Regions from separate parts of the Homo sapiens genome. Here regions 1, 2 and 3 are each reported to be linked to region 4. Evidence: microRNA targets listed by miRTarBase, many of them from high-throughput screens and not tested one by one. Region 4 holds a microRNA gene; each other region holds the end of a gene's coding sequence. Distances are between the middles of the regions.
The links. Region 4 holds the annotated microRNA hsa-miR-660-3p (ACCUCCUGUGUGCAUGGAUUA, at 3,984-4,004, opposite strand). A microRNA usually pairs through its seed, bases 2 to 8, with sites in the 3' UTR of a target mRNA and lowers its output. Matches are read on the target gene's strand: a 7mer-m8 pairs with bases 2 to 8, a 7mer-A1 pairs with bases 2 to 7 and ends in A, and an 8mer does both.

Region 1: miRTarBase lists SHROOM4 as a target of hsa-miR-660-3p. The part of its 3' UTR that is shown has no 7-base or 8-base seed match.
Region 2: miRTarBase lists MAFK as a target of hsa-miR-660-3p. Seed matches in the 3' UTR shown: 7mer-A1 at 2,792-2,798 and 7mer-A1 at 2,795-2,801.
Region 3: the mRNA of ZMIZ2 is a reported target of hsa-miR-660-3p. Seed matches in the 3' UTR shown: 7mer-A1 at 2,556-2,562, 7mer-A1 at 3,333-3,339 and 7mer-A1 at 3,336-3,342.

The regions. Positions count from the first base shown.
Region 1 is chrX:50,591,477-50,597,237 of GRCh38, reverse strand. It overlaps SHROOM4 (shroom family member 4), which reads left to right. Exons shown (of 9, transcript NM_020717.5): 9 at 274-5,761. The coding sequence ends at 543. Among named protein-coding and RNA genes, the nearest start is that of DGKK, 120 kb to the right of the region's middle.
Region 2 is chr7:1,538,652-1,544,412 of GRCh38, forward strand. MAFK (MAF bZIP transcription factor K) reads left to right here. Exons shown (of 3, transcript NM_002360.4): 2 at 498-577; 3 at 1,290-4,392. The coding sequence starts at 542. The coding sequence ends at 1,724. TMEM184A (transmembrane protein 184A) reads right to left here. Exons shown (of 9, transcript NM_001097620.2): 9 at 3,584-5,761. Among named protein-coding and RNA genes, the nearest start is that of MAFK, 11 kb to the left of the region's middle. RefSeq lists an enhancer at 1-728.
Region 3 is chr7:44,766,024-44,771,784 of GRCh38, forward strand. ZMIZ2 (zinc finger MIZ-type containing 2) reads left to right here. Exons shown (of 19, transcript NM_031449.4): 17 at 141-310; 18 at 398-640; 19 at 1,493-3,858. The coding sequence ends at 1,600. Among named protein-coding and RNA genes, the nearest start is that of ZMIZ2, 20 kb to the left of the region's middle. RefSeq lists enhancers at 1,961-2,487, 2,322-2,461.
Region 4 is chrX:50,011,535-50,017,295 of GRCh38, reverse strand. It overlaps MIR660 (microRNA 660), which reads right to left and starts at 4,055; the gene lies at 3,959-4,055. The region is part of intron 3 of CLCN5 (chloride voltage-gated channel 5); the gene reads right to left. It overlaps MIR502 (microRNA 502), which reads right to left and starts at 2,698; the gene lies at 2,613-2,698.

The DNA.
Region 1 (5,761 bases), 580 kb from region 4:
TGGTGGTCCCTACATTGAAGACAGCGTTAAAGAGATGGAAAGAGGTAATTTCACATCCCCTATCCAGAATTGTTGTCATGTTTACCCTCCTGCTACAGGAAACAAAGGCTTTTGCATGGAGGTAGACTTCAGGGCAGAAAATCTAGGACTGACTAATTAGCAGAATGTATAGCTGCTTTGTGGCAGCATCTCTGGTGGAGTACTGCTAGGCAGCACTGTTGGACAGATGCCTGGTAATTGAGAGAGCCCTTACTTGGTCCTCTGCTTCCCCAGTTGGTACTGATAGAGAAGAAGCAGCAGCTGACGGGGCAGTTGGCAGATGCCAAGGAGCTGAAGGAGCACGTGGACCGCCGGGAGAAGTTGGTGTTTGGCATGGTCTCCCGCTACCTGCCTCAGGACCAGCTCCAAGATTACCAGCACTTTGTCAAGATGAAATCTGCTCTCATCATTGAACAGCGAGAGCTGGAGGAGAAGATCAAGCTCGGGGAAGAGCAACTCAAATGTCTCAGGGAGAGTCTACTCCTGGGGCCCAGCAATTTCTAATTCTACCAGCACTCTGCCACAGCATCCCTGCCCAGCCATGTGGGAAGTGCTTTCAATCTTCTTTGTTAGCAGTTTCTCAGCAAGTAGATAGCAATTAGCAGTTTGTTCCAGCCCTCTACCCTGGATGTCTCTCACTACCCCTTCCCTAGCAGTGGTCCTAACCAGCTAGGAGACCCTGGGGAAGCCACAAGCTTCTACCCAAGGGAGCTGCAGCAAGGTGTGATCTTAGAACCACACTCTCCTTCCCACAGTTGCCAAGGGCAAGTACTTGCTGCACAGAGAACCAAGGAAGTGCCTTCATTCTGCTTTGTACTAGGACACCAAAGACATCAAGTACTCATCACCCACCCATATCATCAACAGCCTCTAAAGGCTCAGAGGGAATCTGCCTTGCAGCTCTACTCTGCCCCAGGGCTTGTGGCCAGCCATTTCTCACAGAGAGCTGGCTGCCTTGAGGGCATTCACCTGGCACCAGTTTCAGGGCCTCACCCAAGCTTTGCAGGGGAAAGCACAGAGGGAGGAATTACACTGAAAAAAATGCAAGCAAAGGTTGAGTACCCCCAGGTGCCCCTTAGGAAGGAACCAGGTTTAAATAGGCTCTACCCTTACCTTTCCCAGCAGCAAGTTCAGGGGAAGAGGCCTACTCTTAGCCCTGGCTAGTGTGACCCTCTTCCTGTCCTAAGACTTTGGTCCTACCACCTCTTGTTTCATCTTTCCTTTACATTGCTGGGGGTTACCGCAGGTGCCTACCCCAGGGCTTCACCATATGGGCCATTAATAGCTCTACTAAAACTGACTTCTAGATGTAGGTTTCATTATTGGGGGAGGGGGTTCTTATTGTTATATTTTAAATGGCCTTTTGATTTTATTTATTTTTATGTTTTGATTATTTTTTTCTTTTTTAACTAATAAGGCGAGAAGAGGGAAGTTGGAGAGGGAAAAGTTAGCCCAGAAGGAAAGCATTTTCTGCAGATCAGCCTGAATCCACCGTGGCTAGGTAAGCAAGTGCCAAGGCGTTGAATTGTTCCCACCATAGCTACCGATGTCTAGGAAGGAGTTTTCCCCTTGAACTCAGAGCCTCCCTACTGTGGCCTGGCCTTGTGCTTCCCTTAAAGTCTAAGTGACTTGAGTTTAGCATTCCCCAGCAGGGTTTAAGTTTTTCTTACTGATTTCTTTTTGAAACCAAAGAAATCTCCTGAAATGGAGAAAGGTTCAGTCATTTCTCTACCATCTCCAAGCTATGGGATCAGTAGAGGTGAGCTCAGAAGGAACTCCTCTAACCATTGCTTTCTCAGCCTGTGGCCTGGCTCAAGGGAACCAAAACTCAAGGTAGCTGGGAGCTCCAGCCAGAGCCAGCTCCCCAGAGCAATTGAAGACCCAGCCAGGATCTTAGGCATACAAACAACTAAAACTGCTGCTGTTGCCAAGGCCCTGACACCAGTAGCTAGTTTCTATGCTGGAAAAGCAGCCCTCAGGTGGACGATGGCAAGAAGGGGGTTATGGCCAAATGCTGCCCTGTTATCCAGCTTAGCTCCCTGTTCCTCACTAACTGGGGCCAATCCTTGGTATCACACAACCCAGCCAAGGCCTGGCATCTCTTCTAGTTACTGCTGAGTTCCTCAGGGTCCTTGAAGGTCAACTGTAGCAGCAGGGATGTCTCATTCAACCAAAGAATTTGCCAAGGAACTTTTGCTGCTGTTACAAATACTTGTCACTAGCTTCCATTTCCTCTTCATTGTATTTGAAAACAATGGGAGAATCTTGGCCAGCAGGGTGTCCTGGGGTAGGGGGTGGGGTAAGCCTTTCTGTGGAGCTCTGGGTTTGCTCTTAGTACTGCTGCCAGAAACACTGTTAGAATGGCAACCCTGCCATTCTCCCCTCCAGTGGAAGATTCTACTTTATTCAGGAAGGCTGGTGGCTTGCAGGGGCTAGGCTTACACAAGCCAGCCAAGATTGAGAAGGTAGGGGAGTGCTTTCAATGGAGGCCATAGTTGTCATCTTTTCTTCTGAGCAGGCTCTAGGACAAACAATGAGCAAATTGAGATGTCCTGTATTGGGAGGATGAGGCTGATATGTTTCATCATTCTCAGAATTTGTGGGCTAGAGCACCTTTTTGGGAATATGGGCCTAGGGAAAAGAACGGTCACTTACCTGGACACTATGGCCATAGTCTTGAGTTTTTCTAGTCAGCATGTGATTGGTTGTACCTTAAGTTTATGACACCAAAAATACTATTAACTCTGTTATTTTTGTTCTTAATCCCATCTCAAATTAGTTTCTAGAGTTAGAATCAGAACACAAGGATGCTCATTTTCACATGGAGGGAAAGTTGCCAAAGCATTTAAAAAATAACCCCAAAAGTATATCTAGCAGTGAAGCTTGGTAGATAAAGGTGAACTGCTAAACAGACACTGGCGTGCCACACTCCTGCCAGGGCAGTCTCATTGTGTGTGACGGTGCTGCAACACTGCCAGTATTACTTGAGATGCAGTCTCTCTCCCCTGTTCTCAGTTCCTGGGCTCAGCCCTCCTCCAAGGCCTGCCAGTGAGTAGCAGTTTGGAAGGCAGGCCAAGGGAGATCCCCAAAGACAGTTATCAGTCTTAACTTCTGCTGTCTCCCGTCAAATACTTATACAGGCCCCCATGGGTAATAGGCAAGCATGATGGCTGATAGAGAAGTCAGTGCATGAGTTACTATCACATGTCCCCCCAACCCCTCCTGCCACCTCCCAGGGCTCTGGATAATTGAATCTTCCTGAGTCCCACAGCTGGAGACTCAACCAGGATATAGCTGTAAATGCCCAAGTAGAATCTGACAGAATAAGACAGAGACACTGAAAATAAAGCCCTAGAAAGGAAGAAATTGGAAGCAAAGAAAAGGAGAGGTGAAAAGATAAAAAGCCTCCTTCAAGGTTAGGTTCAGGTTCTGTTTTCCATTTAACCTCATGTGCCATAAAGCTGCCCAGGCACACCAGAGCCACATCCTGAACCCGACCCTCCCTGACAGTGCTGCTCTGCCAGTAGCAAGCCCCAGATGGAGGAAGCTGGGCCCATTTCTGGCCACTTCCACCCATTTGGAGCTTTGCCAGAGGAGTCGTCTATGCCAATAATATTTCTGCAACAGCATATTATATTATTTGAAGATTAGTAGATCTTTTTGGGGGGGTGGGGCAGGGGACAGTTTCTATAGATGAAGAACCAGTGTTGGTTGTACAGCTGTTGGGGGTCATCTATCCCATGTGAAGCTATTCTTTTTCCAAATCTTGTTGTTTCTGCATTTGTGTCCTCCACCACTCCCTTCTTGGCTGACATAGATATGCCTGCCAGATTGTCATCAAGGGTCATATTTCAATAAAAGGTGCTAAGGACAAAAAAAAATCTCATGTGTTTTAACTCAGGTGATGGAAGTCTAAAGATTCTGCTGAAAAGTACTGGAAAGGAATTTGGTCACCTATCCATAGTCCTTCACAGATAAACATATGACCAGACCCTTACCCACATCCCTAAACCCTTACCCTGGCCTCTGAGGGATGGTATTGATGCTATACCATTCATCATCCCCAGTTAAATAGCAGGATCTGCCATAGCCTTTTTAGGGGAACAGCTTTTAGACATCTATTTCAAGACCATCCTGAGTAGGGGGTACAGAGTTTAAGCCATTGGTTATTTCTGTTGTTATCACAGTATTGAAGCATGGTATTTTTCTACTCAGAAGGATCTCAGGATCACAGCCCTGCCCTTTAGCTCACTGATATATTTCTTCCTCTCTGGTTACTCAGTGGCAACATCACATCCAGTCTAACCCCATGTTTAGAATGCAGAAAAAGTCAACAATAGGTGTAATCTCAGGTATAGACCTAAGCAGTATACAGAGTCTAGTTCTGGAGTCTAGCCTGATCGAAGGTAAGCCATTCTTTCTAGACTTCTTCCAATCTTGAATTCTGTCTAGTATTTTCATCTTACTTCTAGCTGATAGTCCAATCTCACACCTTCATGCTCAGCTCCCTGGAAAGCAAGGGCCTTGGTGATCTGCTCTCCAAGGCAACCTCAAAGATTAGACTCAAATGTATTCCAGGAAGCAACTCTGACATTGAAAAGCTTTCTTTTTTCGTGATCCATATTCTGTTCACATTCCAACTATCCTCCTTCTACTCAAGATATCCATTGTGGTAGAGTAGAAAGAGTCCAGCTTTGGCATTAGAATGAACTGTGTTCAAATCCTGGTTCTGCCACTTATTCAATGAACCTGGGCTACTAGCTCAACTTCTGAGGTCATTTTCTTATCTGTAAAATGGGAACAGTATTATCTTGCTTGCAGTTATTGTAACTTGAAAATAATAAATAAAAGCCACTAACAATCCAAGAAGTTATTAGGCAGAATCCCAGGCCCACCCCAAACCCAGTGATAGCAGTCTGAATTTTAACTAGATTTCCAGGAGATTCATGAACATATTACAGCATGGGAAGTACTGACTTGTTGAAAACATATTCAGTACATGGTAACCATTATTATAGTCCTGATCTACTCAATTCATTTTTTCCTTATCCCAGGCATATTCTTGCTCTTCTCGTGTTGCTCACAACTACCTGCCTGGATGAATTTAGGAAAGTTGCAGGATACAAGGTTAAAACACAAGATCAAATGAACAATCCGAAAATGTTATTAAGAAAACAGTTCCGGCCGGGCATGGTGGCTCACGCCTGAAATCCCAGCACTTTGGGAGGCCGAGGCAGGTGGATCACGAGGTCAGGAGATCAAGACCATCCTGGCTAACACGGTGAAACCCTATCTCTACTAAAAATACAAAAAATTAGCCAGGTGTGGTGGCACGCACCAGTAGTCCCAGCTACTCGGGAGGCTGAGGCAGGAGAATTGCTTGAACCTGGAAGGCAGAGATTGCAGTGAGCTGAGACCACACCACTGCACTCCATCCTGGGCAACAGAGTGAGACTTTGTCTCAAAAAGAAAGAAAGAAAGAAAGAAAGAAAGAAAGAAAGAAAAGAAAGAAAGAAAGAAAGAAAGAAAACAGTTCCATTTACAATAGCATCAAAAAGAAAAAAGTACTTAGGAATAATTTAACAAAAGAAGTGCGAAACTTTTACACTGAAAACTATAAAACATTGTTGAAAGAGATTAGAGAAGATCAAAATAAATGGAAAGACACTCCATGTTCATGGATTGGAAGACTTAGTATTGTTAAGATGAAATGTGCCCCAAA
Region 2 (5,761 bases), not on the chromosome of region 4:
GCACAGCTGTCTTGAGGGAGGGAGGTTTTGCCACCAGTCACTTTGGTCCTCGGTACGGGGCACCTTGTGCTGTGCAGGTGCAGACGTCTTCTCTGACCTCAGGGAGAGTCAGAACAGGAAGCAGCCACTGCCGGCGCCTGCTGGTCACCCCACAGTGCCGGCGGCTGCAGCCCAGGTCTGCAGGGCAGCAGGGGGCCGCACCTGGCTGCCAGGCCCTGGGGTGGGGTCCCAGCCGCTCTGTGGAGTGTGCTAGAGTGTGAGGTGCAGCCAGACCTTTCCCTGAACCCTCAGGCAGGGACAGAGGCCGGGCCAGGATGCCTCACCCCCTGGGAAGCCCCTCAGGACGGGCTGGGCCCGGATGGTGCCCCGTCTTGTTTTCATGGTGCTGTGACTGTCCACCCCGGGCTGAGAAGCATCCCTGCATGGGAGGTGGGCACCCTGTCCGGCGCTGCCGGCCCTGACCTGTGCTGGCTTCTCTGCTTGTCCATGTTTTCCAGCTACGAGTTCCAGGGAGCTCTGTCCTGGTGACCGTGCCCGGGTTATGACGACTAATCCCAAACCGAATAAGGCATTAAAGGTAAGGCTGGTTCCAAGCAGGCCCCGTCTCAAGCACAGGCGTGGGAAAGGCCCCCGGCCCGACAGCCCCTGCTATCCCAGGGCCGTCCTGAGCCTGTGATGGAGGCCTCCCTGTTGCCAGGAGGAGGGGGGCTGCTGTGGCCGAGGGATGTTCACAGGAGAGGTGGAGTCAGGATCGGGGACTGTGGTTCCAGGCGATGACTCCCAGGCTGAGGGCGTGGCAGGGTCTGCTGCCTTCCCGCCTGGGCTGTGTGTCCGCCGGGCGCTACTGCATGAGCTCATCCCCTGGCTCCAGGCGTGGGCAGCGTGGCCAGCGTGGCCTCTGGTGAACGCGATGCTCCAGCTCCCAAGGCCCGAGCCCACCTGTGCCTGGCGCTTGCCGCCTCCACAATGGCGTGTGCCTGTGGGCCGGCTCAGTCCCAGCAGCAGGACCCATGCACTCTGGGTCCTCATGGGCTCTGAGGCTGTCGGTAACCAGGAGTGACCGATGTCACCACTGGCTTTTCCCGTTCAGAAAGGGTCCTGTGGGGCCACAGCTGTCACATGGGCTGCCTGCGTGCACAGTGTCCTGTGGTCCCTGGTGCGGATGGCGAAGGCCAGCCCTGAGAGCGCAGGCGTGCAGGGGCACCGCTGGGTTCCTGGCCACCCCAGTGTCGGTCCCAGGCAGACACCCCACGTTCTCCCGCCGCTGACCCCGCACTGTGGCCCCCCAGGTCAAGAAGGAGGCGGGCGAGAACGCCCCGGTGCTCAGCGATGATGAGCTGGTGTCCATGTCGGTGCGGGAGCTGAACCAGCACCTGCGGGGTCTCACCAAGGAGGAGGTGACCCGCCTGAAGCAGCGTCGGCGCACACTCAAGAACCGCGGCTACGCGGCCAGCTGCCGCATCAAGCGGGTGACGCAGAAGGAGGAGCTGGAGCGGCAGCGCGTGGAGCTGCAGCAGGAGGTGGAGAAGCTGGCGCGTGAGAACAGCAGCATGCGGCTGGAGCTGGACGCCCTGCGCTCCAAGTACGAGGCGCTGCAGACCTTCGCGCGCACCGTGGCCCGGGGACCTGTGGCGCCCTCCAAGGTGGCCACCACCAGCGTCATCACCATCGTCAAGTCCACCGAGCTCTCCTCCACCTCCGTGCCCTTCTCGGCTGCATCCTAGTGCCGGCCGGGGGCGGGGGGTGGCGGGCGGCGGGCGGCGGGCAGGCGGGTGGGGGCACACCCCTCGTACCTGTCACTGGGATGCAGACTCTCGACATCCGAGTCCAAGCGCAGGCCCCTCGGGCGCAGGCAGCTCACACCAGGAAGAGACTGTATTGCAGGGTGAAGAGTGGGCTCCCGTGGGCCCAGAGCTGCACGCCGGTCCACAGACACACTCACGCCCGCCACCTGCTCCCCGCAGGATGTGTCTGTGTGTGGGAATTGGTATCTTGCACCCGTGGGAGTCGGGACATATAATGGAAAGGCCCTCGGGAAGTTCCGCGTCCTCTGTGGGGGCTGCCGGAAGACACGGCCCCAGGAGTCAGGCCCCTGTGGTCAGGTCTAGCATGGGGCTTGTTTTCCACTCCTGCTGTAAGCAGCCTTCGACACCTGTCCTGCCACGGCCTCCCAGCCGGTGCGGGAGCCCCTCACTGCCCTGACCGACTCCGCAGTCCCCGGGGAGGAGCATGGATGGTGTGTCGGCAGCTCCGTCCTTCCAGCTGTCCCGTTGCAGTGCCCGTGATCCGCGTCTGCCTTAGCAGGGGCCTGCGTGAGTGGGCACGGTGTGGGAGGTCGCCTGCGTGGGGTGGTGTCTGTGTGTGTGCACGCACGCCTGCCATCAAAGCAGCAGGGCTGAGGGGGTGCAGCTTGCTGGTGTTCACTGGGGGAGGGCCTGTGGGCACACATGGCAGAGAGAGTGGCTCACACGTCGTGAGGTCTCCCCTGTGCTCTGGTGACCCGAGGAGGTCGTGCAGCACAGCGCAGAAGCCCCTGCCCACGGGATCCGGCCCCCCAGACACCGACCCCACAGGCCGTCCCGGATCTCAGCGGACACAGGCAGGAGCGCCCCATCATTTGACGGTGAGCAGGACTCAGGCTGTGTGTCCTGGAGCTACTTCTCACCAACTGTGGTCAGTGCAGGGGGAACGAGGAGGTCTTTTGGGGGCCTGGCGAGGGGAAGGGCTGCTGCAGTCTAGGGAGAGGGGGTGCAGCCTGGGGGATGTTGGTGGACATGGATGTGGAGGTGGAAGGAGGAGGACGTTGCGTGGAGTGGTGGGAGGAGGCGGGAGCCGTGTGCGAGAGCAGGTGGAAAGCCTTGAGGGGCAGGACCAGGATGCAGCTGGCTTGTAGAAGAGCTCAGGAGTGAGCCTGGCACTCCAGAGGGCGCGGCGGGTGGGGAGGCAGCAGGCACCAGTCCAGGAGAGCTTCGTGGACGTGGCTCCTGCGCGCACACCCCCAGGAGCACAGCCACGGGCTGCAGGTGTGGCTGGCCTCAGCACTCAGTCCTCACCCGGAGCCTTTGCCTGCTCCTCCTTCCAAGAGCACTGAGGCACCAGTGGGCTTGGCACTCCACCTTGGGCTTCCTTTTCCTGGAGAGCCGCCTTGAGGGTCCCTCCTGTGACTGGGGTCTCTGCAGCGAGAGCCGCGGGGGTTGCGGAGCCCCTGCCTGGGGGAGCTGGCGGAATGTGAGCCGCCGGCCGGGGGCCGCCACATAAGACCTGCAAGGTGGTGCCTGGGGCCCTGGCTCCTTCTCGGCTGCCCCTGCCCACCCAGTAACAGCCCCCACCAGCTACAGAGCCCAGGCGGGTGCCAGCCACGCTGGGAGGGCAGAGGACAGACAGCCCCGGGGCTGCGACTTGGTTCTGTGTCTACTGTTAGAAGTTGAGTGGGAAGCTGCAGGCCCGCCAGGACCACTGGGTCCCTACAGAGCAAAGGCCTGCGTGTTCCCAAACAGCCGTTGCCCCCGTGGCCGTGGTAGGTAATCCATATTGGATGTCATAAGGACCAGGGGGATATTTAAAGAGAGAAACAGAAAATATATAGAGATATAAAATTATATTCACAGTTTATCTACAGATTTTTCGTAACAATCTTTCTTTTCCAGTTTGATACTGTAAATCTATCAGAGCAGAGCCGGGGGCACGGGCACAGGTGGGAGTTGGGAGCAAAGCGGAGGCCCGGGCTGCCCGCCGTCCCCCTTCATCTCCCCACGGACTGTACCAGGCAGCTGGGCCCCGCAGGACAGGCCGCAGCGGGTGGCCGGTTCTGTCCCGTCTTGGGGTTCTTGGTGTCCACGTCTTGTGGGCCGTGGGCTTCTACCTGCCCTTGGCCTGCAGTGCTTTGCTGGAGAAGGGACTCCCTGGTCCCCAGGGTGGACGGAGCCGCTGTCACCGCCCAGAGCTGGGCCGGGGAAGCACGGTGTGTTCTGCTTTTCTTTTCAGATTGTTGAAATTTCATTGTCATGATTTAATATATGGATTTTTTTATTTAAGAAAAAGACGAGGGACTCTTTGTCACGTGGGTTTGTTTTCTGTCTCCGTGCCTCCGGCTTCCCAAAGAGATCCAGGTCTTTGCGTTTCCAGGGCGTGGGGACCCCGGCCCCCTATGCCGCCACGCCGCCACACCGCCTCACCCTGGCTTCTGTGCTACTTGGCAGTTCCATTTCATTATTTATTTTTTGTGCTGCTTTTTATCATGATATAAATTATTGAAAACAGATCACATGTGGGCCCGTGTCTGGCCGCCGCCGCCCTGCCCCGTCCCTGCGGCCACCACCTAATTTATTGCCGTGCGTCCTGCTGCTGTGACTGCTTTTGTACCTTTGCAATAAAGAATTTTCTGGTTTCAGACCCTTTCGTTGCGTAGCTGGTGCTTTCAGCTGGGGCTTTCTTGGGCCAAGAACCACACCCCCCCCCCAATCCCAGGGGACCCTGCCTGTCCCTCACCGGGGTCAGGATCCGGGCACTACGTGTAAGTGGCTTTCCCGGACTGCTGGGCCGTGACCGTGAGGCTGGGACAGCCACGGGGGAGGTGCTGGTCAGGTGACCACGTCCTGGGCTCAGTCTCTGAGGGTCAGGCCGCAGTCCTGAGTGTCCCCATCTGCCCCACCCGGAGCCCCCTGTCCATGCAGCCTCTCCCTTCCAGTGGAAGGAGCAGAGAGCAGCACGGCTGTCAGTGTTCCCCTTCCCTGGGAGACATCTCGCCCAGCTTTGCTGGACTCTCAGAGGAGCCTGCAGGAAGCTGTGAGCAAGACAGGGTCTGTCTGGGAGCAGAGAGCAAAGCGCCCCTGCACAGTGGCCGGAAGCCCGTGGACTCCTCCGAAAAGCCACGGGCCTGCCCGCATGCCGTCCCCACCCCGCCCGGCCTTCCCCGTTTTTGGGGCTGAGCTGACCGAGGTGTGAACGCTGTTCAGTGCTGGACCACGCAGGGTGAAATCCCAACTCGAGTTTTTTGAGACAGTATCTTGCTTTGTCACCCAAGCTGGAGTGCAGGGGCGTGATCACAGTTCACTGCAGCCTCGACCTCCCAGGCTCAAGCAATCCTCCCATCTCAGCCTCCTGAGTAGCTGGGACCGCCGGCACGCACCACCACGCCCAGCTAATTTTTGTATTTTTTTTTTGTAGAGATGGGGTTTCACCATGTTGCCCAGGCTGGTCTCAGACTCCTGGGCTCAAGCAATCCACTCGCCTTGGCCTCCCCAAGTGCTGGAATTACAGGTGTGAGCCACTGCACCCGATCATAATCCCAACTCGCAGCATCTGTGTGGCCTGGGGCCAGTTCCCTCCTTCCCAGCCTTGCTTCCTGTGAGTTGGGTGTGGAGGTGAGTGTGCAACAGCTGGCACATAGCGCAGTGAGTGTTGAATCTGTGCTGGGGCCACAGCAGCCCGAGCTTGTCACTAGCAATGGCAGGGATGGCACTTTCCCCAGCTAAGTCAGACCTCCCTGCAGCCCACCCTGCGGCTCTGGGCCCAGCCTGCTCCTCCTGGGGGAGCCGACGGGTGTGAGTTGGGGGCACAGAGCCCCAGCCCTGTGTGGGGCTCCTGGAGGCTGCGGACAGACGGGGAAGCTGTGAAAGGAGACACCGCCCCGCCCGGCCATGCAGCCTGCACCCGGGCCAGGCCAGGGCCCCCAGGGCTTCCACCGTTTCTTGTGGATGCTGGGGATTTTCAGCTGGACCATCTCCCAGAGAAGGATACTGAGGCCAGGAGAGGCTAGAGA
Region 3 (5,761 bases), not on the chromosome of region 4:
AGCGACTTCTGCAAAACCCGCTGTTGTTTGTGGGTGAGCACTGCAAGTCCCACCCATGCCACAGCCAGCCTCCCTCCTGGCTCCTCTGCCAGCGGTGGCCTTCCCCAGCCCTCACCCAGGCCCCGACTCTCCTCTCACAGGTTCCAGCTTCCTGGGGCCTGGAACTTTCCCTGAGTCCTTCCCACCCACCACGCCCAGCACCCCAACCCTTGCTGAGTTCACCCCGGGACCACCCCCCATCTCCTACCAGTCTGACATTCCCAGCAGCCTCCTGACTTCAGAGAAGTCTACCGCCTGCCTCCCAAGCCAGGTCAGTGCCAAGCCGAGAGGCCAAGGGGCCCTGTCTCCCCAGGGGAGCCCCTGAGCTGTTTTAACAAATTCTTCTCTCTGTCTTCAGATGGCACCAGCAGGTCACCTGGACCCCACTCACAATCCTGGGACACCAGGACTACACACCTCCAACCTTGGGGCCCCTCCAGGTCCCCAGCTGCACCATTCAAACCCTCCCCCAGCGTCCCGGCAGTCCTTGGGCCAAGCGAGCTTAGGACCTACGGGTGAACTGGCCTTCAGTCCTGCCACAGGCGTGATGGGGCCCCCCAGCATGTCTGGAGCCGGGGAGGCCCCAGAACCAGCTCTGGACGTGAGTACCAGGCCCCATGCGGGGGAGTGCGTGGGAGCCAGGGCTAGAGGTGGTGTGTCTGTTCCAGGTGCGTTCTGGAAGGGAAGACAGTGACCCCTCAGAGAGCCGGTCAGATAAGGTCAACTAAATGCAGCTTTTGTTCATGAATTAGATACCTGGAGTAGCTGCGGGTGGGATGCGATGTACCACATTTGTGTTCATGAGGGGCCTGGATGCCGTACGGGCGGACGCAGAGTCTCAGAGGAGACTGCACTGGAAGCTGACAGCACGGTCCTTAGAGTCAAATTTCGTCTGTCCATTTGCTCAGTAGCCCTGGGTCTTGACTCACAGGTGGAATGGGAGTGCAAACTCAGTACATGAAGGACAGAACTGACTGTCCCTGGACCATAATAGAAACTCATTCTAGAAGTTCAACATGAAACTCATTCTAGAAGTTCAACATGAAAAAGTTAGGAAGAACAGCTCCAAGCAGAAAATCCTAGGGGCATGGAATTCCACCACCAGCATTCACCTTGGGGCATCACGGTGGGGATCCCCACGCAGGCTGATGCACAGAGGGAGTGTGGAGTGGCTGCACTCCCTCACATCCCGTTTCCTGGTGGTATTGAACAGCATGTTGCCAGCTGTTCTGGCCCCAGAGCAACCTTGCAGGGAGGTCCCAGGGGGTGGCGTGTGCCTCTTTGAGCACATGCAGGCCTATGGTGGGGCCCCGCACCCGGCCTGTGTGTGAGGAGGGGCTGCTCAGCATCCCCACTGTGCCTGGAGACAGGGCCGGGATGTGGTGACAGGATGGTCACTCAGGTGTGGCCAGTCAGTGACCAAAGCTGCTAACAGAGTTCACTTTGTCCTCAGCTGCTCCCGGAACTGACCAACCCTGATGAGCTACTGTCCTACTTGGGCCCACCCGACCTCCCTACGAACAACAATGACGACCTGCTTTCTCTGTTTGAGAACAACTGATCCTGTGTTTACCCCAAGCCCGGCGGGGACACGCTCACAGATGTCACCACAGCCCTGCCCTTCATGCCCAGCCCCATGGGACACCCGGTGGTCTTTCCCAAACCTCCCCCAAAACACACCTGGAGCCAGAGCCTTCTGCCGCCAGCCCTGCCCCTGAATTGGAAGCAGCCCTGTGCTCGATGGGAGGGGCTCCCAGGCCGGCAGCCCTTGCCACCTCCCTCTGCCAAGCCTGCTGCTGCAGAACGGTTTTTGCTGAGGTGCCCCTGCCCAGCCCTGTCCAGCCTTGTCCACACACACATCTCACGCCCCTGGTCTCACAGCCTCACACCTTGTCCTTCCACCCCTGCCTGCCCCCACCCAGCCTGCTTCTTGTCCAGCATTGATCCTTCTGTTTCAACAACTCCTCCACTGGGCAGAGCTGGGCATCTGGCAGGGCTGGCTCTGTCCCCTGGGCCTTTGGCTCCAGTGGCCCCTGTGCCCAGCAGTCCAGCTCTTGGAACCTCGCTGAATGGCAGCCTCTTGGGGGCCTGGAGCTCTGGCAGCCCAGCCGTGTGTGGTGTCAGGTTCCTCTCCCCACCCCAGCTTCAAGCAGAGGCCTCGGGGTGGGGGAGCTACAAAGCACAACAATGTACATAGTGTAGAAACACTAACAGCTGGGAGAGGGGAGCCAGCTGTCCAGCCAGCATGTTCCTGTTGTACAGCCCGGTCTCCCTGCGCGCTCTGCTCCTTCCCATGTGCAGACAGATCAGGGAGGAACCTCCAATGGGTGGGGGACAGTGAGCTTCGGCCTGGCCGAGGTGGGTGGGTGGGCTCTCAGATTCAGCTCTGTGTAAAGATTCTCTAGCGGGCTGCGCTCCCAAGTTCCCCTTCTCTGTGAAAGTGAAGAATTAGTACAGCTGTGTTTTTTAAAGCCACCTCTCTGTCTCCACCCCATGGGCCCACACCCAGGTGGGGGAGGAGGAAGCCACTGCATCTGTTGGCTCAGGGCCCCAGCCTGTGCGAGCAGGGCGCCTGGGCTGTTGTGTCTCCTGTCTGTGCCGATCTCTATTAAAGGACTCCCTCTTGGTGGGCCTGGCCGAGTCCCTCCTTTGTGCTCCCAGGGACTATTTTCTCCTCGTAAGCCAGCGACCTGCCTAAAGCTTGGGCTGTGCCTGCAAAGCTTGTGCAGGACCTGGGGGCCAGGTCGACCTTCAAGTGGCTTTTGGGGCCCCAGGTTGAGCTCTGGATGTTTCAAGCCAAGGCTCGGCTATTCCCGCCCCATAGTAAATTTCCTTTTCCCTGGAATTTTCCAAGTTGGCTTCAGCTGAAGAGCTGTTTTGTGAAGCATCCCAGGCTTGCCCAGGAGAGACATTTGCCACTATGTCACCTTATCTGGGCTTGCCCTGGGGCACTGAGACAGTTGTTTGGCAGCCCCAGCCCAGCCAGGGGCTCATCCTTCTCAGCTCTTGTCCCTGGGAGGCCTCTGCTTGTCACTTCCCAGAGATTGCAGAGGTGTGTCCTGCCTACCATCTGCCTGTCCAGCTTGGTGGGGGTCCGGGTCACCATTTCCTCCAGTCCTGGGCCCCATCCTTGAGGGCCTTCCCAGCCAGCCAGCAGGAGAGGCAAGAACTGGGGGAACACAGGAACCTAGGGGAGGAGGGGAGCGCTGGGCATCCTCAGGCTGGCGGCCAAGGCCTGCCCCTGGAGGCACTAGAGGAGGGCATCTGTCTGTGGGAGCCCAGAGGCTGCAGGGAGGAGGAGGAGGGAGGTATCTGGTGTGAGCGTTGCCCCTGCGACATTTGGGACCACACAGGTGGGCTTCCTTATTCCCTGACAAAGCCTCTGTTTCCAGCTCTTCCGCCCTCTCTGGATGAGGGAACAGAAGTGGAGGAAACAAAAGAAGCAGCAGCACGCACAGTCCTGTCGCTGGGTGCGGAGACAGCCTGGCAAAGTCCCACTCAGCCATGGCCTGATGCAGGCCCCAGGCCCTCCTTTCTTGGGTGTCAAATGACTGTGTCCTGGACATCTGATGCACCACCTGCCCTGCCTGTTGCAAACGTGATGCTCCCGGATGGAGTGGAGAAACTAGGAGACTGGGACAAGCAAAAGGCTGCAAACAACCCAGAAGCCCATCCTCAGAAGACTGGAGAAATGATTGAGGAATGCATGGGCACCGTGGCCCTGTGCTCCATCACAAACACCTCTCAGAAACAACGTGGGATGAAAAAGCAAGACAGTTCATACAGTATGATGCCATTTTTATAAAGCTCAAAACCAAATATGTGTGGAATTCATACCCAGGTGCTAAAGTCATCAGGGAGGGCAGGGAGTCAGTACAACACAGTGCTCACCCGTGGGGAGGGGACGGAGCTGTGCTTAGGGAAGAGCAGAGATGCTGGAGGTTTTGAACCTCAGGGTCAGTGGTGGCTTCGTGGGTTTCACTTTGTCGTACTTTCTGTTTCACACATTTTCTTGTGAATGTGCCAAGTATTACATAAAAACCAAAAGGCTGACCAGACTTAACAGTGCTCCACCCAATAGCAGCAGAACACACGTTTCTAAGTGCACAGGGAACGTTCTCCAGGACAGACCACACGTTAGTGCACAAAGCAAGTCTCAGTAAATTAGAGATCGGAATCCTGCAAACCACCTTCTCCAATCACAATGGAATAAAACCAGAAATCCATACCAGAAGGAAAATGAAAATTCACACATACATAGAAATTGAACACACTTTTTAACAGCCAAAGGGTCAAAGGAGAAATCACGAGAAAAATTAGGAAATAGAGATGGATGAAAACAACATACCAGAACTTAAGGAATGCGGCAAAAACTGCTCTGAGGGAAATTTATAGCTGCAAATGCCAACATTTAAAAAGATGCGACATCTTGGCTGGGTGTGGTGGCTCACGCCTGTAATCGCGGCACTTTGGGAGGCCGAGGCAGGCAGATCACCTGAGGTCAGAAGTTCGAGACCAACCTGGCCAAAGTGGTGAAACCCTGTCTCTACTAAAAACACAAAAATTAGCCAGGCGTGGTGGCTCACACCTGTAATCCCAGCTATTCACGAGGCTGAGGCAGGAAAATCACTTGAACCCAGGAGGCAGAGGTTGCAGTGAGCTGAGATCATGCCATTGCACTCCAGCTTGGGTGACAGAGTGAGACTCTGTCTCAAAACAACAACAAAAAAATTCCTAGAAAGATACAAATGACCAAAATTGTCCCAGGAAAAATAGAAAATCTGAACAGGGCCAGGTGCAGTGGCTCACACCTGTGATCCCAGCACTTGGGGAGAACTAGTTAGGAGGATGGCCTGAGGCCAGGAGTTCGAGACCAGCCTGGGCAACAGAGACCCTGCCTCGACAAAATCTTTAGAAATCAACCAGGTGTCATGGCACGTGCCTGTAGCCCCAGCTACTTGGGAGGCTGAAGCAGGAGGATAGCTAGAGCCCAGGAGTTCAAAGCTGCAACGACCTATGACAGCACCACTGCACTCCAGCCAGGAATGAGGCAGAGACAGAGACCTGACCTCAAAAAAAGAAGAAAAAGGAAAAAATCTGAACCAACCTAAAACACATAGGTAGAACCAGTCATCAAAAGCTTCCCAACAAAAGAAAAGCCCAGGACCAGATGGTGAATTCTACCAAATGCTAAAGAATGGACATAAATCCCCAAATTCTCCCAAACATTGTGGAGGAGAAAACACTTCCTAATTCCCCGTATTCATGTGAGGGGCCAGCTTCCCTCCCATTCTGCCCCAGCTTCCTCCAGTGGCCTTCCCCAGCAGGCAGTGGCCCCCACTTCTGACCCCTGTAACTCTACCCACTGTGGGTTTCCTCCTTGCCACCCTTCCAGCCTTCCAGGCTTTGGGGGCCATTGAGACAGCCCATCCTGCCTGCCCTGAGTGGGAGGGCAAGACATGACTGGCTCAGGATGGCCTGTCACCCAAGTTGCCTCAAAGAAGCCAGGGACATCAGTGCAGTCGGATGCACAGTGCAGTAGGTTTTGGTAAGTGCACACGCGTGTGTACCTGCCCTTCCAAACCTCACAGGAGAGACCAACCCACACCCCACCCCAGGTCATCACTGTTCTGGCCCCTGTCACCAGAGATTAATTTTGCCCTTTCTGAAACTTTATGTCAGTGAATATTAGAGTCTGTGTCTTGTTGTTAACTGATCCTTA
Region 4 (5,761 bases):
AAAACCAAATGTTGATGAGGATATGGAGTAACAGGAACTCTCGTTCACTGCTGATGGAAATGTAAAATGGTACAGCCACTTTGGAGGACAGTTTGGTGGTTTCTTACAAAATTAAACATAGTCTTACCATATGATCCAGCAACACTTCCTGGTATTTTACTTAAGTGAGTTGAGAACTTATGTCCATACAAGATCCTGCACACAAACGTTTATAGCAGCTTTATTCATAATTGCCAAAATGTAGAAGGAACCAAGCTGCCCTTCAGTGGGTGAGGATAAATAAACTTTGTGCCTCCAGACAATGGAATACTATGCAGTGATAAAAAGAAATAAGCTGGTTACTATATGGGATAAATGGGGAAAAAAATGAAAGAAAAGAAATGAGCTATCAAGTCATGAAAAGATATGAGGAGCCTTAAATGCATAGTGCTAAGTAAAATAAGCCATTCTGAAAAGGCTGCATAATGTATGATTCTAACTATATGACATTCTGGAAAAGGCTAAACTATGGAGACAGAAAAATGATCAGCGGTTGCCAGGGGTTTAGGGTGGGGGAGGGGGGATAAATAGGCAGAACTCAGAGGAATTTTAGGGCAGTGAAACTATTCTGTATGATACTATAATGGTCATGCATGTCATTATACACTTGTCAAAACCCATAGAGTATATAACACAAAGAGGGAACTCTAATGTAAACTATGGTTTACATTAATAATTATATTTAAACTATTATTTAATAATAGTTATAATACATTATAATTATACTATTATTTAATAATAATGTCTCAACATTAGCCCATCAATTTTAACAAGTGTACAACACTCATGCAAGATGTTAATAGCGGAAACTGGGGTGTCTCGAGAATATATAACAACTCTATACTTTCCATTCAATCTTTTTGTAAACCTAAAACTGCTCAAAAAAGTCTATGAATTTTTAAAATATGAAAAGAAACTAAAAGAGCCATTTACACATAAGGAAATTTTGATGCTAAAAATCATCCTGTGTAACACAGAAATCCCCCTAGTAATGACAGAATAGAAATTTTAAGTCATTTAAACCAATGGTTCTCAAACTTCAGTGTGCATCAGAATCACCTGGAGGGCTGTTAAAACACAGATTGCTGGGCCCCACCCCTGACTTTCTGATTACCTAGGTCTGAGGTGAGGCCTGAGAGTTTATTTCTAACAAGTTCCTGGAGGATGCTGATGCTGCTAGTCTTGGGCATCAAGAGAGGTATAAAGTCTGATAAAATAAGACTAAGGCTGAGCAGTAACCAAAATGAGATTTTAGAGTATACAAAAGATAAGGAGCACATATTAAATAACCTGAATCTTTACTGCAGGTTAGATTGGGAGAATCTGGGAGAGAAGAAGGACCAAGGATCAGAATCTATAAGTCCCAAATGTTTAAGAACTTGAGGACTGAAATGGAGTGTGTGTCTCTTTCTGTCTCTGTCACCACTATTTATAATACTGTATTGCTACGCTGACCTGAACACTATAAATTTGCAATGGGCAATGAGCAAAAATGATAAGATGGGGAGGAATGAATAGATCAGCTTAGCTAAGAAGAGAGTAACAACTGAAGAATACTGCTGAGGTCACAGTAGAAAGCACTCAGGCTCAGGCGCTAAGGATGGGAGGAGGGGAGTGAATCAGATCATGGGCACCTGTACTCCCTAGGTGAGAGAGAGAGAGAGATGGAGAGACGGACAGAGAGAGCGATAGACTGAAACAGAGACATGTATAGTCCATCTCTATTTGACTAAAGTAAGGTAATATAAAGATATAGGCTGTTCTCATTTCCATATTGTGTGGGGTGCATACAAGATCAGCAATAAGAAGGGTCCCTTGCTCTTCACCCCCTCTAATTCAAGAAGAGTCTGTAATAGACATCTAAAGGCAGCTCACAGTTCTACTCAGGATGTCCTGGAAGATAAAGGGCAGCTTATAAGCTCAAACTCCTATACATTCTGTAAGTGTAAATCTTCATGAATGTGTGCATCTCCCTGTCCTCAGAGGGGACAGAGTGGGGGGAATAGGAAGACTCTCTCTTTGGCCCCCATCATTTGTGCCCGTCTGAATTTTTCTTCTAAAGCTGCCCATCAGAGAGCACATCCAGTGATTTTGACTCTCGTTTGTCACTGCATCCTTAACACTAAAAAGAGTATCTGTCACACTCTAGAAACTCAAGATATAGGAAGGCAAGAAAAGAGACATATATGCACTCAGTCCATATATATACATATAGGTAGGCAAGGCTCCATCTCATTGAATCCTTGGCTTAATACTTGAGACAGCACTCACATCTAGGTTGGAAGGAAGTGAGGGAGCAAATCAGAAGGCTCTGGTTCCCGCCCACCACCCTGTGTGTGGACAGCAGGTGGGGAACACAGAGAAAGCTCACTGTCTCACTCTGGATACCTGCATACATGGACATTATTTAATAAGGACATTTATTCTAATACACAGACAAGCCCACCAGAGCACCTGAAGTCCCTAACTATTCTGTTCTGTGCTTCCCCAACACACACCCATCACTCAAAAACTATGACAGGGGAGGGTGGGAGGGGTGATGTCTAGGCTCTCTGTCCTTCTTGGTACAGTTGAGCTCCCCCTCTCTGAATCCTTGCCCAGGTGCATTGCATTGAGCCAGCACTAGCACCCAGATAGCAAGGATTAGAGAGGGGGAGCAGGGCAGAAGGCTTGGGCACCTGCCGTGCTCGAAGCAGAGAAGGTTCTCTGTTACACAGCTCTGTGTGAGAACAGGAATGAGAGTCTTGCATTGTGTATATGTTGGGAGAGGGTGTCAATAAGAAGTCCCATGTTGTGGCCCACACTAACTCAGCACGTGCAGGAATATTAGGTGACAAAAAGTCAAGTCTCCTACACATATTCTTTGAGGCAAGAACCAAGTCCATCTTGTGTGATACCATATGCCCACTGCCCTGGCAGCACAGCGTTAGCATGTACTAAGTGCTCAATACTTGTGAAAGGGAGGTAGAGGGGAAGGAGAGGGAGGAGGAAGTGTGACTCACAGGCACTTTGTCTGTCTATGGGCAGAAAAAGGCCCCTCTGAGAGTCCTGGAATAGGTGCTGCACTGAGACAGCATGCACATTTAGGTGGCAAGGATACAAGGGGAAGCAGAGCAGCAGGCTCAGGATGTGCACACCACATATATTTGCACAGGTACCCATGTCTGTGGGAGGGAATAAAGAAAAGCCTGATTTCTGGCACCCTGAGCCCATGTATTCACAGGAAGTTGGATGACATGAGGATGCTTATTCTCCATGAGCCTGCTAGACAGTAAGGTCGGCATCTCTGACAGGTTAGTTTACTGTGGCATTCCCAAACAGCAGGAATTCAGTAAATTTGTTAAAGGGATGAATAAATGAATGGACCAAAAACATGCACACACAAATGACTGACTGAAAGAATGAACAAAGGAAAGAGAAGGGATGGACAGGCTCTGTCCTACACATAGGCAAGGCTCACAAGCTGGTATCCTTGCACAAGCCCATTGCACTGCTAAGACAGCACTTGTGCCTAGGCTGCAAGGCTAGGAGAGGGCAAGCAAAAATCAAAGTCCAGGCACCTGCACACCAGGCATGCATCTGAGTGTGTGTGGCAAGGAAACTTGCAGGCAAGTTTAGATAATAAGGCTCCTTCCTTTCAGCTTTGTACAGAAATGTTTCTACACTTACACATGTGTGTGTGCACATGCATGCACAATGTGAGCATGTGTATTCATAAGAGAATGAGAAGGCTCAATTCCTGACACACCTGTGTCTGTTGCCTAGGCCTGGGGAAGTCTAGGCACCTAATACCTCCACTAGATAGGAAGTCCCGGAGAGAGACACTGTCCATTATTTAGCAGGGTACTCCCAGCACAGCTCATGGCACATCAAAAGTGCGCAATAAACACGGGCTACTTGGATTGTTCAGCAGAAGATTCACGATGACAAGGCTCACCCTCCTGTAATCCATGCACACAGGAGGTGTTTTGAGAATTCACAACTCCGATATGCAATGGGTATGGGAGAAGGAGCAGTTCATTCTTCTGCACATGGGAGGGGGGTGGGGGAGGAGAGAGAAAGAAAGACAGAAAGAGAGAAAGAGAGAGAGAGGAGAGAGATTGATTGATTGATTGAGAGAGAGACAGATTGAGATTAAAGTGTCAGGTGCACGCCTGGAGAAGCAGTGCCAAGTCTATTCCCTAATAAAGTACTTGTTGTGTGTTCACTTAGCCTCATGTGCTCACTGAATGTGTGGTTATGGAGGAGGTGGAGACAGTAATGAAATGATGGCTTCCCTGCCACAGTCTGCATGGACTCGGCATTGGGAACGTACATGAGCAATGCAGGAGCTCATTCTCTTCCACCCTTCACCTGACTAGCTTATCACTGCCCCTAGCTAGCACTTATACTAAATCAGTGATTCTCAAACTTAAGTGAGCATCAGAATCAGTTGAGAGCCTTGGTAAAGTACAGATTTCCATGGTTTATGGTGTAGTAGGTCAGGGATGAGCCCAAGAATTGGCATTTTGAACAAGCTCCTAGGTGATACAGATGCTGCTGGCCCAGGGACCACACTGAGAACCACTGCTCTATACATAACTTAAAGAAATGAAATAATGGGACATAGAGGGGTGATGCAAAGACTCTACACTTTTAAACATGGATGAGATTCCCTCTCTGAATTTTTGTACAAGGCAATGGACTGGAATAGCATTTGTACCCAACTACGAAGAATGAAAGAGAGGGACAACCTGAATAGAAGGCTCGAGCATCTTCAAATCCATTGTGTTTGTGTGTATGTACAAAAGAAACAGCACTCTCTGGCTCACAGGTGATTTTCCTATGACCATACAAAGGTGAAGTGTCTTTTCTTCATATGCATGTGTGAGATGACTGACAAGTAGGGCCACTTTCCTTCAAGCTCTGGTGGCATAAGCAGCAAGTAGAAAGCCTATTGCCTTGCACACCAGACATGAGTGAGAAGATGCTGCTAATGACACTCATTATCCTATGCACACTGTGGCTGCAGCTCTGTGTAAGGGGAGACACACCTTTTGTAGTTCTCTAGCTGAGCACTGTTGGGGGGTTGGAGAGGGGATGATGGGAAGACTCACTCTCTGCTACATACGTATGCATGAACAATGTGGGCAACGGAAGTTCCTTCTCTTAAACATGCTCACTAGGCATGTGAGTATGAGTTCTGTGTCTTTCTTGACCACCCTGTCTCTCCATGTCTGGTGCATGACAGGAGCGCCACCCCTGCTTGTTAAAGGTGGGAATGAATGAAGGATGGGGATTATAAACAGGTGTTCTTCGCTCTATGCAGAAAAGGCTCAGCCGTGGAATGCTTGCCTGGGTGCACCGCATTGACACAGCACTTGCATCCAGGTACCAGGATTCAAGAGGGGGAACAGGACTGAAGGCCCAAGCAGCCATACAGAGTATGTGTGTGTGCACGTGTGCGTGTGTGCACATGTGCTCACATGGGTTTACAGGGAAGGCTCACCGCATATAGTGTGTTCATCTGTGACTGTACAGAAAAGTAATGAAAGGATCTCTCCTATACAGAGCAGCAAGAAGGAAAGTAGCAGTAAGAAGACTTCCCTCATTTAATCCCCATCTATAAGGGAGTTAAGGAAGCTCACTGGCTTGCACGCTGAGAATGGGAGAGAGGAGAGCACAACAGGCTCCATCTCCTACCCTTTCAGTAGGTGGGGTTCTCTGCATGCAGGGCCATGTC